Linked DNA regions of Homo sapiens: region 2 is linked to region 1. The links come from fine-mapping of genetic effects on gene expression. A gene starts in region 1. The other region holds a variant in brackets. All regions are shown on one strand. Distances are from middle to middle.

Region 1 (11,651 bases):
GACAGGATCTCACTCTGTTGCCCAGCCTGGAGTGCAGTGGTGATCTTGGCTCATTGCAGCCTCAGCCTCCTGGGCTGAATCTATCCTCCCATCTCAGCCTCCCAAATAGCCGGAACTACAGGTGCGTGCCCACAACTGGCTAATTTTTAATTTTATTTATTTATATATTTATTTGTAGAAATGGAGCCTCTCATGTTGTTTAGGCTGGTTTTGAATTCCTGGGCTCAGGCTATCCTCCCTCCTTTGCCTCACAAAGGGCTGGGATTACAGGTGTGAGCCACTGTGCCTGGCCAACATGCTTTTCTCTTAAGAGTGGTGGGGATTTCCTGGAAATTACAGTTGCCAAGAGTCAAACAAGTGGTTTGGGCAATTTGAAGAAGAGGGGCTGTTTTGTAGCTAAGAAGGCAAAGTCCAGACCCCTCGGATTTCCCTCTTCAGTTACCTCTTTCAGCAAACCCAGCACAGGCGCCTCCAGCTGGTCAGGCCCAGGAAGAAGCACTGCCATTGAGTCAAAGGCTCCTGACAGAGCACTGAGTGGGGGCTTAGCTCCCCACCCCCACCCCTGCTTCCACTCTGAGCCCTGGCTGTGTCTGTCTGGGATGGGGGCATCTTTCCTTTTTTATTTTTTTTTTTTAATATATATATATATATTTTGCCCGGGTGCGGTGGCTCATGCCTGTAATCCCAGCACTTTGGGAGGCTGAGGCGGGTGGATCACAAGGTCAGGAAATCGAGACCATCCTGGCTAACACAGTGAAACCCTGTCTCTACTAAAAATACAAAAAATTAGCCCGGCGTGTCGCGGGTGCCTGTAGTCCCAGTTATTCGGGAGGCTGAGGCAGGAGAATGGTGTGAACCCGGGAGGTGGAGCTTGCAGTGAGCAGAGATCGCACCACTGCACTCCAGCCTGGGCCACAGAGCAAGACTCCATCTCAAAAAAAAAAATTAAAATTAAAAAAAATAAATTTTTTAATTAATTAATTTTTTTTTTCGGAGTCTCATTCTGTTGCCAGGCTGAAGTGCAGTGACACGATCTCAGCTCACTGCAACCTCCAACTTCTTGGTTCAAGCGATTCTCCTGACTCAGTCTCCAGAGTAGCTCGGATTACAGCCACCCGCCACCATGCCCAGCTAATTTTTGTAATTTTAGTAGAGATGGGGTTTCACCATGTTGGTCAGAATGGTCTCGATCTCCTGACCTCATGATCCGCCTGCCTCGGCCTCCCAAAGCGCTAGGATTACAGGTGTGAGGTCACCATGCCCAGCCTATTTATTTATTTATTTATTTAATGAGATGGGCTCTTGTTGTGTTGCCTAGGCTGGTCTTGAACTCCTGGGTTCAAGCAATCCTCCCATCTTGGCCTCCCAAAGTGCTGTGATTATAGGTGTGAACCACTGTGCTCGGCTGGAGGCATCTTTTTCTAATTCACACAAAGGCCTAGAGGAGTCCCCTTTTCTACATTCACAAAGATATCTTATTGGTTACTGGTGGTGGTGATGATGGCGTCTTCAGGGGACACTGACCAAAAAGCTGAGGTATTTAAAAGAAGCCCTTGCAGGCCTGGTGTGGTGACTGATGCCTGTAATGCCAGCACTTTGGGAGGGTGAGGTGGGCGGATCCCTTGAGCCCAAAAGTTTGAGACCCACCTGGGTAACCCAGCCAAACCCCCTTTTTGCTAAATATACAAAAATTAGCCAGGCGTGGTGGTGTGCGCTTGTAGTCCCAGATACCTGAGAGGCTGAGGTGAGAGGATTGCTTAAGCCTGGGAGTTCAGGGCTGCAATGAGCCATGATAGTGCCACTGCACTCCAGCCTGGGTGACAGAGCAAGACCCTGTCTCAGAAAAAAAAAAAAAGAAAAGAAGCCCTGCATGCAGTCAAAAGCTGAGTAAGACTCCAGCACCCCTCAGATGGGCTTATGAGGAGCTCCTGTGCCCTCCCAGAACTCTCTCCCTTGTTCCAATTTCAGGTGTAACCATTGCCAACTGCCTGCTCAGCCCTGGGAGCACTGGCTGCCCTAGACTCCTTGCCTGCCCTCCTTCCCCACCAGTCCCATAGGTTACCTTCCACGCATACCTCGACATGCCCTAGATTATAAATCAGGCCACAGGCTCAGGGGCAAGAAAAGTCACACGGCTTTATTTTCATTAAATCAATAGCAGTGGGTCTCTGAGCTTTCTTCCCTCGGGACTGGCAGAAGATTCAGTCTCAGTGATTATTTTGATGCCCCTCATTTCCTTGGGGTGACCTAGGCCCTAAACAGAAATGGGGCTTTAGTCTGTAGTTGTTTGTGGACATAATATACTCATCGGCTAAGGCTACACAGTTCCTAGGGGCTGGAAATTCTGCTGCACCTCTGACCCCAGGGACTTAGCTAGGCCAGGAGCCTTGTGGTTGATTCATTTGTGCAATGCCCATGTTTTCAGCTGAATGTAAGCCCTGTGAAGGCAGAGGCTTTGCATTGTTGCATTGTTCACCACTGTCTTTTTTTTCTTTTCTTTTTCAGACGGAGTTTGCTCTTGTTGCCCAGGCTGGAGTGCAATAGCGTGGTCTCAGCTAACTGCAACCTCCACCTCCCGGGCTCAAGCAAGTCTCCTGCCTCAGCCTCCCGAGTAGCTGGGATTACAGGCATCTGCCACCACATCCAGATAATTTTTGTAATTTTAGTAGAGATGGGGTTTCACCATGTTGGCCAGGCTGGTCTTGAACTCCTGACCTCAGGTGATCTGCCTGCCTCGGCCTCCCAAAGTGCTGGGATTACAGGTGTGAGCCACCGCGCCCAGCCTGTTCACCACTTTCTAGACATCCAATATTTATTGAACCCAAGTAAATGTCCAAGGACTTCCTGTCTGAGAATCTGCTACCTTCCAGGGGCAACCTGAACTCTTAAGATCCAGCAACGTCTGTTTGCTGCCCTGGCTATGCCAGTCTCCCCTCTCTTATGACTGTTCCCTCCCTCCTTTCACTACCCCCTCTAGGAGGTCAGAGGACACACCCTGGAGGTAGCTGTCTCCAAGAAGCTGTGGCTTTCTACTCTGCCACATCCTCCTCCAAGGGAAGGGATCTTTGCTACCTACTTAGAATGGGGTTTAAAAATACAGTTAGAGGCCAGGCGTGGTGGCTCAAGCCTGTAATCCTAGTACTTTGGGAGGCCGAGGCGGGCGGATCATGGGGTCAGGAGTTCGAGACCATCCTGGCCAACATGGTGAAACCCTGTCTCTACTAAAAATACAAAAAAATTAGCCGGGCTTGGTGGCGGGCACCTGTAGTCCCAGCTACTCGGGAGGCTGAGGCAGGAGAATGGCGTGAACCCGGGAGGCGGAGCTTGCAGTGAGCCGAGATGGCACCACTGCACTCCAGCCTGGGGGACAGAGCCAGACTCCGTCTCAAAAAAAAAAAAAAAAAAAATACAGTTAGAACAGGAACTACTCAACCAATTACCCAGCCACAGCCTCTTCAGTTCCTCCCTACTACTAGTTACCAGTTCCTAAGCGTAGCCCCTTACAGCTTTTCACCAAGACTTCTGCTATGGTTTAAATGCTTGTTCGCTCTAAAGCTGGTGTTATAATTGGTTACCATTATGGAGGTATTGGGAGGTTGGACCTTTAGAAGGTGATTGGGCCATCAGGGCTCCACTCTCATGAGTGGGAGTAATGCTGTTACAAAAGGGCAAGTTTGGTCTTCTTTTGTCTTGGCCCTTTGCCAAGACATGCCATGTGAGGACTCAGCCTTTCTCCTCTCCAGAGGATGCAGCATGCAAGGCATCATCTTGGAAGAAGCGAATGGCCTTACCAGACACCCAGCCTGCTGGTGCCTTGATCTTACACTTTCCAGCCTGCAGAACTGTGAGCCAATACACTTCTGCTCTTTATTAAATACTCAGTCTCAGGTATTCTGTTATAACAGCACAGAAAGGACTATGACAACTTCCCTGCCTTAGCCTCCTTGCTTGCTGGTTTCCCCAAAAATCCATCTTCCACAGAGCCAGTGCATCTTTCTAAAATGCAAATTAGGTTGTGTCTCTGCCATAGCTCCCCACAGCTCTCAGCTCAAACAGCTGAGCACAACCTGGCTCCTGCCTGCTTCCCCAGGCTTAGCACCCCAAGCCCAATATCACCCAACTCAGCTCTCTGGGATGATTCAGCTCCTTCTGCCTGGGATACCCTCCTCCCCAGCTTTCTCCTTTTCCTGCTAACTCCTACTTGTAAATTAAGGTTAAGCTGGTGGGACAACCATATCTTACGTGCTTTGCCATGCAAAACAACAGGAAAGACCCAAGACCACCTGAGAAGTCTTCTTCCCCAAAAGTCAAACCTGAATGTCATCAAACCCTTGGCTGTAACTATCAGTTTACAGGAAATATGGGGGACAGAGGAATATGTTAAATGACACCACCAGAAAGGAATCAGCCAAATCCTCCAGAATGTGGGAAATTCACAGGACAAAGAACAAGGAAAAAATGGGGAGAGGGCAGGAGAGCTACAAATTAAGGGAGACTTAAGAGACACATCTACCAAATGCAATGTGTGGACCTTGTTTGGACCCTGATTTGAAAGAACCCGCTGTAAAAAAAAAAAAAAAAAAAAAGAGACATCAGGGAAATTTGGTGACATCAGGGAAACTGACCACATATCTGCCTGGTGGAAGTAAGGAATTACTGTTTTTCTTTTTCTTTCTTTTTTTTTTTGAGGTGGAGTCTCGCTCTGTCGCCCAGGCTAGAGTGCAGTGGCACTATCTCGGCTCACTGCAAGCTCCGCCTCCCGGGTTCAAGTGATTCTCCTGCCTCAGCCTCCCAAGTAGCTGGGATTACAGGTGTGAGCCACCACGCCTGGTGGAATTACTATTTTTTTTTTTAGATCTGATAATGTGTTAGAAAAAGAGAGTCCTAGCCGGGTGCAGTGGCTCACGCCTGTAATCCCAGCACTTTGGGAGGCCAAGTTGGGCAGATCACCTGAGGTTGGGAGTTTGAGACCAGCCTGACCAATATGGAGAAACCCCATCTCTACTAAAAATACAAAATTAGCCAGGTGTGGTGGCGCATGCCTGTAATACCAGCTACTCGGGAGGCAGAGACAGGATAATCACTTGAACCCGGGAGGCCGATTTTGCGGTGAGCCGAGATCCTGCCATTGCACTCCAGCCTGGGCAACAAGAGTGAAACTCCATCTCAAAAAAAAAAAAAAAAAGAAAGAAAGAAAAAGAGAATCCTTACCTTTTAGAGATAAATACTGTTTACGTTCAAGATGATATGATCACTGGAATTTAACATCATACAGTGAGGGCCAGGTATGATAGCTCACACCTGTCAGCCCAGTGCTTTGGGAGGCTGAGGTGGGAGGATCACTTGAAGCCAGGAGTTTGGGACCAGCCTGAGTAATGTAGTGAGATGCTGTTTCTAAAAAAAAAAAAAAAAAAAGCCAGGTGAGGTAGCGAGTGCCTATAGTTCCAGCTATTCCAGAGGTTGAAGCAGGAAGATAGGAAGATAGCTTGAGTCCAGGAGCTCGAGGCTGCAGTGAGCTATTATTATCTTGCCACTGCACTCTAGCCTGGGTGGCAGAGTGAGACAACCCCCTTCTTTTTTTTTTTTTTTTTTTTTTTTGAGACAGAGTCTTGCTCTATCACCCAGGCTGGAATGCAATGATGCAATCTTGGCTTACTGCAACTTCTACCTCCCAGGCTCAAGGGATCCTCCTGCCTCAGCCTCCCAAGTAGCTGGACTATAGACATGTATTACCATGCCCAGCTAATTTTTTTATTTTTTGTAGAGATGGTGTTTCACTATGTTGCTCAGGATGGCCTCAAACTCCTGGGCTCAAGCGATCCTCCTGCCTTAGCCTACCAAAGTGCTGGGATTACAGACATGAGCCACTGCACCCAGCCTGAGACACTTCTCTAAAAAAATACATAAATAAATAAAAGTTAAAATAATAAAAAATTTTAAAAGTTGTTTAAATAGGGCCGGGCGCGGTGGCTCATGCCTGTAATCCCAGCACTTTGGGAGGCCGAGACGGGTGGATCACAAGGTCAGGAGATCGAGACCATCCTGGCTAACACAGTGAAACCCCGTCTCTACTAAAAATACAAAAAAATAGCCGGGCGTGGTGGCGGGCGCCTGTAGTCCCAGCTACTCGGGAGGCTGAGGCAGGAGAATGGTGTGAATCCGGGAGGCAGAGCTTGCAGTGAGCTGAGATGGTGCCACTGCACTACAGCCTGGGTGACAGAATGAGACTCCGTCTCAAAAAAAAAAAAAAGTTGTTTAAATACATAAAATAATCAAAAGTGAGTATAGATGAAATAAGAGTGGCCATAAGTTCATAATTACTGAAGCTGGAGGAAGGTACTTGGGGGTTCATTACACCATTCTCTCTCCTGTTTCTGTTTGACTGTTTCCATAATACAATGTTAAGAAAGGATTAAACGTGTCACCCCCTCCTAGAAGCCCTCTCACATTCCTCAGTCTGAATTAGATCCCCCTTTCCGGGGCTTGCCAATACACCTGATGTGCTGACCGGCAATTCTGTTGTTTGCCCCTCCCTCTTGGGGGCAGGGGCTGCACTGGCAGGAGAGGTGTGGCTTCCACTTAAGGGTCCGGTATGCCTGCCTCCTCGGGCCAGCCCAGATCATACCCTGCTGGGCAAAGGAGGAAGAGCCAGAGGATCCAGACGCCTTGGAGGACTTGGAACACCTGTAACAGGACAAGGAGTTCTGCTCAGGCACGTGGCCACAGAAAACTACTTAGGAAGCCTGTGGTGAGAACAACAACAGTGCCTGAGAATCCCACGGCTCTGGGGAAGTGAGCCCCGAGGATGAGGCTGCTCGCCTGGCTGATTTTCCTGGCTAACTGGGGAGGTGCCAGGGCTGAACCAGGTACAGCACTGGGAATGTCTGCTATGCCTTTGTTTTGTACTGTGAACTCTGGGGCTGCGGGAAGCTGCTCGCAGCCAGCTTGAAGGTGCTTCTAAAGATAGCAAGGCAGGAGCTAGGCAGGGAGGCAGGTGGGGAGAGCTAGTGGGCCTTAGCAAGTGCTGTTTGAGGCTGAAGATTTTAAGTGGAGGCGCCAGCTGGCCAGGGAGGGACACCGACATTGCGAAGAGGTCTGGGTACGTGAGAGCTAGCTAATTAGTAGAGGTAGGAGGTGGCAGGAAAGATTCGTGGACTCATTCAACAAATGAGGTCCTTTCCTGTACCATACGTTATTCTAGGAGCCAGGGATATATCAGAGAAGAAAAGAAAGTCCCCGTCTCAATGAAGAATTCCTTCATCTGGGGAGAAAAAAACAAACCACACGAACAAGTAAAGTACGCAGCATTGGAGGAGATGATAAGTGTTATGGGGAAAATAAAGTAGAACAGGGAAGGCGGGTTGTGGGGAGGGGGTACTTACAAGACGTCCAGAGAAGAGCTGTCAAATCAGGTGACACTCAAGTGGAGCCTTGAGGCAGTGAGTGGGGGAGCCACATGGGTGTCCAGAACATTACAGGAAGAGAGGACAGTGCACGGGGTCTGAGGTGGACACACAGGAGATGTGCATGAGGAACAGCAAGGAAGCCCGCGTGGCTGAAGCAGGGTGGGCAGGACAAGTGGGGGTGAGGTTGGCAGATGGTGGGGTGGGGCAGGTGCCAAATCATGGATAGCCTCGAAGACTCTCTTGAGGACTCAGACATTTTTCTTTCCACGTGCCTGTAGATAGGAAGGACGCAGGCTTTTGCTCAGGGTGAAATGGGATGTCATTGGAGGGTTCTAGGCACAGGTGTAATCTATTCTGACTTCTGTATGTTTAAAAGGACCCTTGAGGCCAGACGCAGTGGCTAACATCTGTAATCCCAGCACTTTGGGAGGCTGAGGAGGGTGGATTGCTTGAGTCCAGGAGTTTGAGACCAGCCTGGGCAACATAGCAAAACCCTGACTCTACTAAAAATACCAAAAATTAGCTGGGTGTGGTAGTGGGTGCCTGTAGTGCCAGCTACTTGGGAGACTCAGCTGGGAGAATTACCTGAGCCTGGGAGGTTGAGGCTGCAGTGAGCTGTGATTGTGCCACTGCACCCCAGCCTGGGTGACGGGAATGAGACCATCTCAAAAAAAAAAAAGAAAATGAAAGAAAAAAATTCTCTTTATAGCCCCTCTGAAGTAGGTGCTAATATCATTATACCCATTTTGCAGATGAGGCAAATGAGTCTCAGAGGGGACATTGCACTTGCTGAAGATCTCCCAGCTGGGAAATGGCAGGACAAAGCCTGTGCCTGGCTGTACTATGCTTCATGTCCTCTTGGGATGGTGGGGTTTAGAGGTACTATTTTTTTCTCTTTTCTCCAAACTTGCTGGAATGTATTCCTTTTAAAGTAAATTTAAAAGGAATTCCGGGCCGGATGCGGTGGCTCACGCCTGTAATCCCAGCACTTTGGGAGGCCGAGGCGGGCGGATCACGAGGTCAGGAGATTGAGACAATCCTGGCTAATACGGTGAAACTAAAAATACTCTACTAAAAGTACAAAAAATTAGCCAGGCGTGGTGATGAGCACCTGTCGTCCCAGCTACTTGGGAGGCTGAAGCAGGAGAATGGGGTAAACCCGGGAGGTGGAGCTTGCAGTGAGCCGAGATTGCACCACTGCACTCCAGCCTGGGCGACAGAGTGAGGCTCCGTCTCAAAAAACAAACAAACAAACAAACAACAACAAAAAAAGGAATTCCGCAGCACCTGTAAGGTTTTTCCAACTCCAGGTGTCTTCCTGAAGCACAGGTGGATTCTGAGACAGGGGATCAGACAGCATCATCCCTGCTTTGCATTAAACTGTGGGATTTCTGCCTCCACTTTCCTTAGCCAGGAGCTTGGGTGGATGCCAACTTGCTGGCTCCTTCTCCTCCTACACATGTCCTGTGTAACATTTCGCTCCTTCCTCAGCTTCTAACTGCAGAGAAGCAGACAGGTTCTTCCCCTGTGGGTTAGCTTGGTAGGAAAACACTCCCTGGAAGGCCAGCCCAGGGCTGAGGGAGCAGGACCAGGGCAGGAATGGTAACACCTACCTCTGGAGCTATTGTGAACAGAGGGTATTCACTGTAGGTGGTCCGTAAATGTAGGTTTTAACAAATGAACTCCATGGGTTTTGGAGGGCCTCCATTTACAAAGGATGAATTACAATTGTGTTTTGGGGCTAATGCTAGCCTTAATAGCAAAGGACTGAAATAGAGACTGAGACCATTGTGTGGTGTGGGTTATAGGCAATAACAGACAAAAGCCACTGAATCACAGGAGTCAGACTAGGAGGGCCTTCAGGGAACCTCTGTTCAGTACTTTCATCTTATACTTGAGGAAACGGAGGCTGAGGGGCAGTGTGGCCCAGGGAATGAGTCCTAAGGCTGCCTTGCTCACCCCACAGCCAGGTGCTCTGTATAAGAGAACTCTTTTACCTGCACAACTGAGGCAGGAGGTGGGACTGGACTCCAGAGGCAGGGCTTTGACACCAGACCAGATTGAGGACTAGCTAAAATACGGCCTGGGCAAAAGCAGTTTTCAAACACACCCAGCAGTGTGGCATGTCAATTTACCTTTGCAATGGCAACACCCAGGAGTTACTGCCCCTTCTATGGCAGTAACCCAATGATTTAAAAGTTACTACCCCTTCCCTAGAAATTTCTGCATAAATGCCCCTTAATCTCCAGGCAATTAAAAGTGGGTATAAATGTGACTGCAAAACTGCCCTGAGCTGCTACTCTCTGCCTCTGGGGTAGCCCTGCTCTGCAGGAGCAGTCATGGAGCTGTACATCACCTGTTCACCAAAGCTGTTTGCTTCAACCTCAAGCTTGCCCTTGAATTTTTTCCTGGGCAAAGCCAAGAACCCTCATGGGCTAAGCTCCACTTTGGGGCTCACCTGCTCTGCATCACAAGCATCCCTCTGCTGGGTGCATTCTAATCCTCATTTTATAGATGAGGAAACTAAGGCTCAGCTCTGAAAATCCCTTGCTTAAGTTGCCACTGCCTGTATGGAAGAGCCAGGATTCAAAATAAGATGTCCCTGATTGCAGGTTTCATGCATGTCCTTGCAGAAATAACTTACTGCCTGAAGCCAGAAAACTTAGGTCCTACCTGTGGTCCTGCCTTTGAATACCTGTGTGACCTGCAACCTTTATTTTACTGTTTATAAAATAGGGATGTTAGCAGAGGAGAGATTAAATGTGATGGCCTTAAGTGAGATCATGCCAGGTACATTGTAAAATGTTGTAAAAGTTTAAGGAGGCATACACACAGATGGTCCCTGACTTACGAAGATTCCACTAAGCTGTATGATGGGGCGAAAGCCTTAGGCATTCATTAGAAACCACACTTCGAGAAGCCATACAACCACTCTGTGTTTCACTTTCAATTCAGTATTTAATACATTGCAAGAGACATTCAACACTTAATTATAAAATAGGTCTGCATCAGATGATTTTGCCCAACTGTAGGCTAATGTAAGTGTTCTGAGCTCCTTTAAGGTAGACTGGGCTAAGCTACGATGCCCTTTGGTAGGTTGGGTGTGTTGAATGCATTTTTGACTTATGATATTTTCAATTTTGGGGGACGTAGCCCCATTGTAAGTCAAGGAAAACCTGTATATATCTCCAAGGCCATGCTGGTAGGTGGTGGCAGAATATAGTGCACTGTGATCATTTCCATTCTGACGTGCTCGGCATCCCCGGTCTGCCGCTCACTCGCTCAGTTTCCTCATCTGTAAAATGAGTACATCTTAGGATGCATTTCATAATGTTGTCATGAGGCTGCATGGATAGAGTGTGTGGCACAGTGTCTGGCATTCAGTAGGTGCTAAATGAATGGCAGATGCCTTCCTGCCCCCCTGTCTCCAACCATAAGGGAACTCACCTTCTAGCCATTTTAAGAACTTAGGTTTTATAAATGACTATGACTATGGGAGTTCTCCCCACCCCTATCACAAATCATACTAAAAAGATCCCATATCATGTATGATTTTAATTTTTTTATCTTATTTTTCTTTTTTGGAGACAGGGTCTCTATCTGTTGCTCAGGCTGGAGTGCGGTGCTGCAATCATAGCTCAAGGTAACCTCAAACTCCTGGACTTTAGGGATCCTCCTGCCTCAGCCTCCCAAGTACGGAGAAATTAAATTTCTTTTTAAAAAGTAGCTGAGTGTGGTGGCATATACCTGCATTCCTAGTGTGGTGGCTCATACCTGTAATCCTAGCACTTTGGGAGGCCGAGGCAGGCAGATCACTTGAGCTCAGGAATTTGAGACCAGACTGGGCAACATGGCAAACCCCACCTCTACAAAAAAGTACAAGAAAATTTGCCAGGCCTGGTGGCACGTGCCTGTAGTCCCAGCTACTTGGGGGACTAAGGTGGGAGAATCAGTTGAGCCCAGGAGGTTGAGGCTGCAGTGACCCAGGATCACACTGCTGCACTCCAGCCTGGGTTTTTGTTTGTTTGTTTTTGTTTGTTTGTTTGTTTGTTTGTTTTTGTAGAGGCACGGTTTTGAACTCCTGGCCTCAAGTGATCCTCCCACTTTGGCCTCCCAAAGCACTGGGATTACCGGTGTGAGCCAATGCATGTGGCCCATGAGATTTTTAATATTGCTTTTGAAATGAATTGTTGATTTTGATGACTTACTTGATATTTGTAATTTTTGTCTTTCCTGCACTTTTAG
Region 2 (11,651 bases), 160 kb before region 1:
TGATCCACCTGCCTTGGCCTCCCAAAGTGCTAGGATTTCAGCCATGAGCCACTGTGCCAGGCCTGTTTTTGTTTTTTTGTTTTTTGTTTTTTTGGTTTTTTGAGATGGAGTCTCGCTCTGTCACCCAGGCTGGAGGGCAGTGGTGCAATCTCAGCTCACTGCAACTTCCGCCTCCCAGATTCAAGTGATTCTCCTGCCTTAGCTTCTCGAGTAGCTGGGACTACAGGCACCCGCCACCACAGCTGGCTAATTTTTCTATTTTTAGTAGAGACAGGGTTTCACCATGTTGGCCAGGCTGGTCTCGAACTCCTGGCCTCAAGCAATCCACCTACCTCGGCCTCCCAAAGTACTGGGATTACAGGCGTGAGCCACCGTGCCCCGCCTATTTTGTAGGCTATATTTATGACTACAATTATTGTGTGAATTATCTTAATTGACTCATTTACTCAGCCTTTAAAACCACTGTAGGGTAAGAAAATAGTATAAACAGGCCAGGAGCGGTGGCTCATGCCTGTAATCCCAGTACTTTGGGAGGCCGAGGTGGGCAGATCACGAGGTCAGGAGTTCAAGACCAGCCTGGCCAACACGGCGAAACCCCATCTCTACTAAAAATACAAAAATTAGCTGGTTGCTATTTTATTTACTGTCCCTGGTGTAAGAACATGTCAGCCTTGATGTTAATTGCACAAATTATAGTCTATGATGCACATGGCACTTTTGCCTGTCCTGGAGGATTGCCTTTAATTAACTGGCTTCCTAGAACATGTATACCTATTCACTATGGTATATAAGCTTTGGGTCTGGGGAGTAACAGCACAGAAATCTACCTGTCTTGTGGCTGCCCAAGACTATGCTTCTGTGTGTAAGTTCCCTCAGTCAATCAACCAATACTGACAAATTGGATTTGTCTGCCTCCTCCTTTGGCTCCTCAGCTCCTTCGGCATTTGGAGTTCACTTTGCATATACAGCCGTTTCACTGGACAGAGGACAACAAAGTAGAAGAGCATATGAGGTGGAGGCTATTGTGCTGACCATCTTATAAAATACAACCTGCCACAGAGGGAATGGGTTTTGGAACTAAACCAGATCGGAGAGAGCAAGCTGTAATGTCCTTTATGTCCTACCTTCAGACATCACACTCCATCATTTCTGCAATATCCTATTGGTTACAGGGGTCAAGTTACTGACACTTCAATGTGGGAAGAGACTGTCCAGGTGCATTAATACCAGAAGATGATATTGAGGGTCCACCTTGGAGGCTAGCTACCACATTGACTTTTGGCCAATAGGATCAAGTAACGACTGTGTGAACCTCTGGATTTTGAAGATAGCAATAAAAATTACCTTTTGGGGGAAAGTAGTTCATACTTCTTAGCTATTACTGGAATCCATGACTTCTCCAACTACCAGGGCTTGCCAGGCTGTACTTCCAGCAAATTATCAACCCTATTTGAAAAGTGAGACTGTGTGGTGCTATGATGTCAGGCTGCCTGAAGTAGAGACTTCCTGTCTCTACTTACCTTAGAGTTGTTGTGAGGATTAAATAACACATATAGAAGTCTTTTTTTTTTTTTTTTTTTTCAGAATCAGATCTCAGCCAGGCACGGCGTTTCACGCCTGTAATCCCAGCACTTTAGGAGGCTGAGGCAGGCGGATCACGAGGTCAGGAGATTGAGACCATCCTGGCCAACATGGTGAAACCCCATCTCTACTAAAAATACAAAAATTAGCTGGACGTGGTGGCATGTGCCTGTGATCCCAGCTACTCAGGAACCTGAGGCAGGAGAATCGCTTGAACCAGAGAGTCGGAGGTTGCAGTGAGCCCAGATCGCACCACTGCACTCCAGCCTGGTGACAGAGGGAGACTCTGTCTCAAAAAAAAAAAAAAAAAAAGACTCAGATCTCACCCTGTTGCTCAAACTAGAGAGCAGTGGCGTGATCACAGTTCACTGCAGCCTCGAACTCTTAGACTCAAGCAATCTTCCTACCTCAGCTTCTCGAGAAGCTGGGACTACAGGCTCAAGCCACTATGCCCAGCTACATGTAGAAGTCTTTAGAACAGTGCTTGGTACATAGTATGCACTCAATTTTGTAAGCTATTATCATCTATGACTTCTACAGAATCAACATTTTATGTTTCCTAAGAAGGAAGGTGATAGAGGCATAAATTAGAATGAACATGTATGTTTACTTGTTTTTTTGCTTCCGAAGTCACTTTAGTCCTATGTCACTTCTAGGCCGTCAGACCATTATTGCAACCCACAACTTTTATACCTCTTTTTCAACTCCACATTACCCACCTCATATATGCCACTTTATTGCGTTGATTTCTAGAGTGTCATTTAAGTATGTGTGTCTCTGTGTGTGTGTATAAAATTGGCATACACAAAAATAACCCTCAGTGCACAATGAGTTTTGACAAGTATATGCAGCTGTGTAATCACCACCATAATCAAGACATGGAACATATTCATCAACCCCAAAAGTTCCCTTGAGTCCTTTGGTGCCCTTCCCTCCACACCAGCCTTTATGCAACCACTAATCTGATTTATATTCCTATAGCTTTGCCTTTTCAAGAATGTCATGTAGCCAGGTGCGGTGGCTCACGCCTATAATCCCAGCACTTTGGGAGGCCAAGGTGGGCGGATCACGTGAGGCCAGGAGTTGAAGACCAGCCTGACCAACATGGCGAAACCCCATCTCTACTAAAAATACAAAATGAGCCAGGCATGGTGGCACATGCCTGTAATCCCAGCTACTCGGGAGGCTGAGGCAGGAGAATCGCTTGAGCTTGGGAGGCAGAGGTTGCCGTGAGCCGAGATTATGCCATTGCACTCCAGCCTGGGCGACAAGAGTGAAACTCCATCTCAAAAAAAAAAGAGAATGTCATATAAATAAAATCATATAGGATATGGCCTTTTACGTCTGACTTTTTTCACTTAGCGTATGTGTTTGAGATTCATCCGTGTTTTTGCATGTCTCAGTAATTTATTCCATGTCTCAGTAGTTTCTTTTTATAGCTGAATAGTTTTCCACTGTATGGATGTACCACAGTTTATCTCTTCAGCAGTTGATGGACACTTGAGCTGCTTCCAGTTTTTGGTTATTACGAATAAAGCTGCCGTAAACATTTGCATACAGGTCTTTTAATAGAAATGTGTTTTTATTATTCTTGGGTAAATATATAGCAGTGGAGCTGCTGAATTGCTGGGTTGTATGGTAAATTTATTCTTAACTGTATACGAGACTGTAAAACTATTTTCCAAAGTGACTGTACCATTTTGCATCCCCACCAGCAATATATGATGAGTGCTAATTTTAATACAGTATTATTTGCAACCTAAGTGAATTTCCCCATTAACTCCTCCCTACCAGTCCCCAGGAAGCTCACCATACTGATAGTAATAGTGATACTTCATGATCTTGGCTTATTGCAACCTCTGCCTCCCGGGTGCAAGCCATCCTCCCACCTCAGCCTCCCGAGTAGCTGGGATTACAGGCCTGTGCCACCATGCCCAGCTAATTTTTGTATTTTTTGTAGAGACAGGGTTTCACCATGTTGTCCAGGGTAGTCTTGATCTCCTGAGCTCAAGTGATCCATCCTTTTGGCCTCCCAAAGTGCTGGGATTGCAGACATGAGCCACTGCACTTGGCCCTATTCTGACTTTTAATAACATAGATTTAATTTGGCCAGTTTTGAACTTAATAAAGATGAAATGATACAGATTGTACTCATTTTATGTCTAGCTTCCTCTTCTCCTTTTTTTTTTTTTTTTTTTTTTTTTTTTTAAGAGACAGGGTCTCGCTGTGTCGCCCAGGCTGGAGTGCAGTGGTGCAATCATAGCTCACTGCAGCCTTGACCTCCTGGCCTCAAGGATCCTCTCACCTTGATCTCTCAGGTAGCTAGGACTACAGGTGTGCACCACTGTGCCTAGCTAATTTGTGTCTGGCTTCTTTAGCTATGCATTGTTGGGAAGAGGTCACCTATGTTGTTCACACAGCAGTAGGCCATTTATTTTTGTGCTTTATAATATCTGTTTATACAAACCTCTGTTGATGGATATTCGAGTTGTTTACAGTTTGGAACTAGTAAAAATAAATACTGCTATGAACTTCATAATAACACCAAATTGGAAACAATGCAAACATCCATCAATAAGAGAATGGATAATCAAACTGTAAGTATATTTATATGAGGAAATACTAATGAGTAATAAAAAAAGACCAAACTACTGATATATGTGACATCATGGATAAATCTCAAAAACATTGTGTTAATTGAAAAAAGCCAAACACTAAAGAATATATAAAGTATGAAGTCCAAGAGCAGACAAAGCTAATCTGTAGTGACAAAAATCAGAAAGTAAAGTCCAGGTGCAGTGTGGCTCATGCCTGTAATCCCAGCACTTTGAGAGGCTGAGCCAGGCGGATCATTTGAGAGGCCGAGGCGGGTGGATCATTCGAGACCAGCCTGACTAACATGGTGAAACCCTGTCTCCACTAAAAATACAAAACAAATTAGCTGGACATGGTGGCGCATGCCCATATTCACAGCTACTTGGGAGGATGAGGCAGGAGAATTGCTTGAATCACGAGGTGGAGGTTGCAGTGAGCCAAGATCGTGCCACTGCACTCCAGCCTGGGCGACAGAGTGAGACTCCATCTCAAAAAAAAAAAAAAATCAGTAAGTAACTTCCAGTGATGAGGGAAATGGATTAAAAAGGAGCATAAGTCAAGGAAACTTTCTGGGGTGATGATAAAAATGTTTTATCTCTTGATTTGGGTGTGGCAGTTACATGGATGTGTACAAGTGTCAAAATCCATTGAGCTGAACACTTACTATCTGTGCATTCGATTGTATATCAATTATAACTCAATAAAAATTAAATGTAAGGGCTGGGTGTCATAGCTCACTCCTGTAATCCCAGCACTTTGGGAGGCCGAGGTGGGTGAATTGCTTGAGCCCAGGAGTTTGAGACCAGCCTGGGCAACATGGCAAGACCACATCTCAACAAAAAAATACAAAAATTAGCCAGGTGTGGTGGTGCGTGCCTGTAGTCCCAGCTACTTGGAGGCCTGAGGTAGGAAGATGGCTTGAGCCAGGGAGATTGAGGCTGCAGTGAGTCGAGATCACGCCACTGCACTCCAGCCTGTCTCCGAAAAAAAAAAACAAAAAGTAAATAAGTATAGAAAAATGCTGCTTGGTCCTAAAAATGCTCCTATGAACTATACCTGATTTTTGGAACACGCATAGTTGGGTATATAGTTAGGAGTAGAATTGCTGGGTCAGAAGGTGCATGGGAATCCTGGCTCTGTCACTTAACAGCTGTATGACATTAGGCAAGTACCCAGAATCTCTAGTTTCTTTATCCGTACCAAGGAGCTAATAT[C/T]GCCTTGATGGGTGCAAACCCATGAAGACTACTTTCGTTAATTAACAAAAGTATGTAGAGCTGAGAGACATTTTCTCTAAAGCCATAGATTTTTAGAAAATTTGTTGCTCAAATTATCAGTAAGAATGGAATATATCACTCTTACCTGGAGGATCAGTTACTTTGATGCAGAAGAGCAGCCTCAATTTCTAACGCAGGTGCAGAGCTTCAGATAAGGGGTTTCCAGACACAACATTCCACATTTATCTTGGCATCATGGTTTCCAAGGAAACAGGATCTTGTTAGCTGGGGCCTGATGATAATCCCTTTACACATAGCCTGGTGTGTTTGGGGGCTATCAAAACACTGCTTCTTTAAAAATTTATCTACATTTCTTTCCCCCAAATCCTGGAATAACTCACTGTCTTCCTGTGTTTTGTGACATGCTCCATGATTCTTTTGGTGTGCAGTTTCCCTTGCAGCAGCAAGTTAATAAACTTAACTTTGTCTGACTACAGGTGGTCTTTATCAGATGGGCTTTATCTTGGAGATTACTGATAACGTACACAAAATGTGTTCATACTGCCTGGCACCTAACAGGCATTTAAGCAATGATAAAATTATTATTTTTATTATTCATGTGTTAATTCAATAAATGTTTGTTTGACATCCAGTATTTGCAAGGCACAGATTTACTGCTATGAGAGATGCTCACTGCAACCTCTGCCTCCCTGGCTTAAGCTACACTCCTGCCTCAGCCTCCCGAGTAGCTGGGACTACAGGCTCAGGCCACTATGCCCAGCTAATTTTTGTATTTTTGGTAGAGATAGGGTTTTGCCATTTTGCCCAGGCTGGTCTCGAACTCCTGAGCTCAAGCAATGATCAGCCTGCCTCAGCCTCCCAAAGTGCTGGAATTCCAGTTGTGAGCCACCGCGCCCAGCCTAAAAACCACTTTTATTTTACATGGAGAAAGAAAACAATATTTTTAATTCCTAAAAGAAAAATATCTTTACTGAACTTCACTTTAAATAGTGTCAAATGTAAATGAAAAAAATCATCAGTACTATTATATAGGTAAAAAAGTGCAATTTACATGACTTGCTTAAGATTTGACATAAAACTACAGATTCTAAGAAACGGTAAGGTTTTATAATAATAACCAAAACAGGCTGGGTGCGGTGGCTCACGCCTGTAATCCCAACACTTTGGGAAGCCGAGGCGGGTGGATCACCTGAGGTCAGGAGTTCGAGACCAGCCTGGCCAACATGGTCAAACCCCATCTCTACTAAAAATACAAAAAGTACCCGGGCGTGGTGGTACACGCCTGTAATCCCAGCTACTCGGGAGGCTGAGGCAGGAGAATCGCTTGAACCCAGGAGGCGGAGGTTGCATTGAGCCGAGATTGCGCCATTGCACTCCAGCCTGGGCAACAGAGCAAGATTCTGTCTCAAAAATAAAATAAAATAAAATAACCAAAATAAGAGTCCCCAAATGTCATCCGTCTCTTTCTAGAGACAGGGAAAAAAAATGCTCTCATAAATTCTCCAACGAAAAATAGAGATAGTCACCCTTAAAAAATCCTAAGGCTGGTGGGTGGATTGCTTGAGCCCAGGAGTTTGAGACCAGCCTGGACAACATGGCCAAACCCCAACACTACAAAAAATATAAAAATTAGCTGGGCGTGGTGGCGCACGCCTGTAATCCTAGCTACTCAGAGGTTAGGTGGTAGGACCTCCTGAGCCCAGGAGAAGGAGGATGCAGTGAGCAGAGATCGCGCCACTGCACTCCAACCTGCGTGACAGAGCGGGACCCTGTCTCAAAAAAAATAAAATAAAGAAAAAATCCTAAGGCCATATACAGGCTCATTCACTTTGGGTCTCCTTTCATCCAGGCAAGCAGCTTTCTGTCTTTGCATTTTCCAAAGACTACAAAGCAGGCTGGGGTGGGGTGGGGTGGGGTGTAGAACACAGGAAACGCAGCCAGTTCCCCTTCACTTCTCACTATCTTGATCTCCTCCCAAACCAAAATCCTATGTCTTTCCTTTTAACATAGGCTTACAAAAATGCAGTTTTCTGTGGGAACATTGAGGTCATGCATTCCAAATTACTTAAGGGAACGATTTTTAAATTTTAGGAATCTAGTTCTCCAAGATATCCCGGCTTGGGATATAGATGAACGAGCTATTTGGGAGAGATTTAGACGAGAATGAATTTTAGAGAAGTAGCGAGGTGAGGAGAGAGTCAGCTTAGCGTTTGGGTTTTGCAGTCAAATTTCAGCAAGGCGAACTAACCTCGCTGGTCTTAATTTTCTCATCGGTAAGAGGGAAAATAATAATGCTTACTTTGATGAATTACTTTACTTCAACATTTAAAAAACCGACTCTCCGTTATCTATTCTAATGATAAAAATATAGATAGAGCATCGTCCCCTGCTGTGAAAAATCTTATGAACAAGTGAATTGCGGTGAGGATTCACATAGTATGTGCTCAATAAACATTATTTTATTGTTTAGATTAGAAGAGGGGTGGAGGGAGAAATGAAAGTGGTTTGGAAACCCCAAACACTACCAAAGCCCTGGGGATGGAAGTAGAGAGGAATTTCGGGTTACGATTTGGTTCCGGGTCTGAGTTTCAACGTTGAATTCTCCCATATTTGGGCCTGAATTCTCAGAACAGAATAGGATGTAAGGGCTGAGATCATCTGGTACAGTTTTATGCAAATCGAAAATTCTTGCCTCTTGTCACTGTGCCCTGGCGAGAAACAACACCTCCACCCAAGCTCATCCAATCTCAGCCCCAACTAGGTGACGTCATCTCCCCGCCCTGCATCCCCAAGCCTCGGGGAGTCCTGTCTCTAAGCTACAGTCCCAGCTCCAGTCCCAGCTCCAGTCCCAGCGGCGCCTGCGCACTTTGGACCGGGGCGGGGAGGACGCGTGCGCGCCGCGTGAGGGCGGGGCTAGTGCGCACGCAGCCTTAGCTCCTTCCCCGCCCTTGCTCTTCCCAGTTTCTCCGTCAGCCTGCGGGTCCCGGCTGGCGGCTGCTTCCGGTAGGAGAGCGGTGTAGAGCGAGCAGGTCTCAGCTCCTCGTCATGTCATACGGTCCCTTAGACATGTACCGGAACCCGGGGCCCTCGGGGCCCCAGCTCCGGGACTTCAGCAGCATCATCCAGACGTGCAGCGGCAACATCCAGCGGATCAGCCAAGCCAGTGAGCCGGGGTACCGAGCTGGGGGGCGGGAGCTGTCCCGGGGACAGGCCTGGGTGAGGCTGCCGGGACGCAGGGCCCGGCTGGGGCTACGGCCGAGGCCACACCTGGGGCTGTCTCGGGCTGTCCACCCTGGGGGCGGTGGGCTGCCATCCCCCAATCTGTCAGGCCCGGGTTGCCCGAGGGTCCCCGGCCCCAGCTGAAGCTTGAGCTGCTTCTCTGGAGTTCTGCCCCCACGGTGCTGGGACCAAAACAGCCGACTTGACAGCCCGAGGGTGGGAAGGGGAGTGTGTGTCACCTCGAGAGCTGTGAGTGCGTTGACTTGGCGCAGTGGTCAGCCGAGTTTCTCCTGTCACCCACCTTCCTCCCCACCCACCTCGCTTTCCTCTTAGACCAGTTTGGATGGGGTTGTTTACTGATTTAGCCTTTAGGTTTACATTCTGCTCAGCCCCTGGCTCCTCGGAAATCAGCAACTTTCAATTAAGGGAAGTGGAGAGTGCATGTGTTTGGGTGACTTCATACACAGTTCTTCCTGTAATGAATTCGGAAATCAGACACAATGACTGGTATTTGAAAGGTGGGATGACTTCATTTTAATAAAGAGAATTCACCAACAGCATTTCAATTTACATTATTTTGTCTTTTGTAACAAATAATTGGGGTGTATTTTTGGATTTCAGGCAGATGAGGCTTTTGTTTTCCTTCCCTACTTAGCTGCTCTTGAACAAATCTGGTACACAGGGAAGCTAAGACACTTAGCCACAACCACATAGCAAGTAAGGCATGGTAGAGTTGTTGGTGGAATTCAGAATGCTATTGCTTGTCTTAAAACTCCCTCCTCCCCATTAGGGTCTGAGTGAAACTGTAGCTGAATGAGTCAAATACAGGGTGTTTCTTGTGCTTGAAAATCATCTTGGAGCCTTATAAACAGGAGATCAGCAGCAGCTTTACTTGGAAAGAATGGTGGTCATCATCCTTGTTGTTTATTATTGTTTTGTGAGCTTGGCGTACTCTGTTAATAGGTAGAACTAGTTAGTCCTGAATTACAATTATATTCTATATTTTAAAGAGTGTCACTTTGCTTTCGTTTTTAAACTTTTAAAAATTTTTCTTTTTTGTAGAGATGAAGTCTTGCTATGTTGGCCAGGCTGGTCTCAAACCCCTGGGCACAAGCACTTCTCCCACTTTAGCCTCCCAAAGTGCTGGGATTACAGGCGTGAGCCACTGTGCCTAGCCTAATTTTTTTGATTTAAAATATTTTTAATTTATTTTTTCGAGACAGAGTCTACTTCTGTCACCCAGGCAGAATGCAGTGATCTGAGTGAAGTGGTACAATCCTAGCTCACTATAACCTTGAATTCCTGATCAGCTTGCTGAGTAGCAAGGACTACAAGGATGCATCTACCGTGCCAGGCTAATTTTTAAATTTTTTGTAGGGATGGGGTCTCACTATGTTGCCCAGGCTCACTTTGCTTTTAAATCTAAATGTATATTGTAGAATTTGAGAAGTAGAAAGTTTCTGATCAAAAGGGATTGAGACTCTGGAAGTGAAAGGAAGAATATGTGGCCTGTTAAAATCCAGAAGTAAAAAAAATTAATATGACCACTGGTTAGAAAGTATAGTACTGTTTGTTCCAGTTTCCTTTTGTGAAGGAGCTGTAATACAGGTTAGATCAGAAAATTCTAGTTCAAGGCTGAAATTTTCTTGTTGAAGCTAAATCTAATTTTAATATCTATTTGCGAAATATTCATTCAACATGTATCCATCTATCCATCTTCGTGTGTATTTTATATATATATAAAACCAGAATACTCCCAAAGGTAGATCCGACATACAGTTTTAAATTTAAATTTAAATTTTTATTTTGAGACAGGGTCTCACTCTGTCACCCAGGCTGGTATGCAGTGGCATGATCTCAGCTCACTGCAGCCTCAACCTCCCTGGCTCAAGCAGTCCTCCTGCCTCAGCCCTACAAGTAGCTGGGACTACAGGTGTGCACCACCACGCCCGGCTAATTTTTATATTTTTTGTAGAGATGGAGTTTCACCATGTTGTCCAGTCTGGTCTTGAACTCCTGTGCTCAAGTGATCCACCCACCTTGGCCTCCGAATAGGCCAGGATTACAGGCATGAATCATCATGCCTGGCCTTCAACATATATTTATTTGAGTATGTAGTAAGTATAAGAACTGGCATGGATCTTTCAACAGGGAACCTGCAGAGTTCATAACCAAAATATAAAGTTGAAAGGGATTGGTGCTATAGAAGACATATAAATAACATGCAGGTATTCTGGGAAGAGAGAGATTGTTTTTAATTGAGAAGGCATTATGGCATTTGAGTTATGTCTGGAAAGAGGATGGAAAGATTTGGACCTTCGAAGGTAAAGAGGAGAAGAGCATTCCAGGAGGGAATAAAATGAACAGGCATCATAGTGGGGAAGCATAGAGTATATCTAGAAGAGTAATTTAATTTGGCTAGAGTGGTGGATTCCAGAAAGTAGTGGGAAAAAAGGATTGAAAGGTAAATTGTGGCCCAAACATGAAGGATGTTAAATGCTAAGCTAAGGGGCTTGGATTTAGTTATTTAGGAAAGTGCGAATTGAATTCAAAGGGAGAGACTGGAATCAGAGATACCAGTTAGGGCTGTGAAAATGAAAAGAAAGGAAAGGATAGGAGAGGTTTCCTTGGTGATAGAATTGGTAAGATTTAGCTATTGATTGGGCATTGGGCCTCAGGGGATCATTTAAGTCAACTGTTAGTAATATTAATAGCTAACATTTGAGTACATACTGTGTTCCAGGCAGTATGAAAAGTGCTTTACATACATTATCTTATTTTATAACAACTCTGAAGCACCAGTATCATTTCCATGTTATGTATTAGGAAACAAACTAAGAAAGGTTAAATAGTTGCCCTGCTAACAAATGACAATATCTGAATTTGAAACTAGGTCTCTTATGACCAGCAATTTGTCTTTTTATTACTTTTTATTAATATTACAGTTCTGGGCTGTGCTCAGTGGCTCACACCTGTAATCCCAGCACTTTAGGAGGCCAAAGAGGGAGGATTACTTGAGGC

Evidence for each region.
Region 2: its variant is fine-mapped to the expression of SMPDL3B in whole blood (TOPMed, PIP above 0.99).

The regions. Positions count from the first base shown.
Region 1 is chr1:27,928,379-27,940,029 of GRCh38, forward strand. SMPDL3B (sphingomyelin phosphodiesterase acid like 3B) reads left to right here and starts at 6,622. Exons shown (of 8, transcript NM_014474.4): 1 at 6,622-6,866. The coding sequence starts at 6,806. RefSeq lists an enhancer at 6,256-7,157 and a silencer at 6,484-6,749.
Region 2 is chr1:27,764,852-27,776,502 of GRCh38, forward strand. STX12 (syntaxin 12) reads left to right here and starts at 8,368. Exons shown (of 9, transcript NM_177424.3): 1 at 8,368-8,574. The coding sequence starts at 8,457. RefSeq lists enhancers at 8,088-8,237, 8,204-8,704, 8,358-8,507, 8,705-9,205 and a silencer at 8,618-8,827. The variant C/T (reference allele first, on the strand shown) is at 5,391.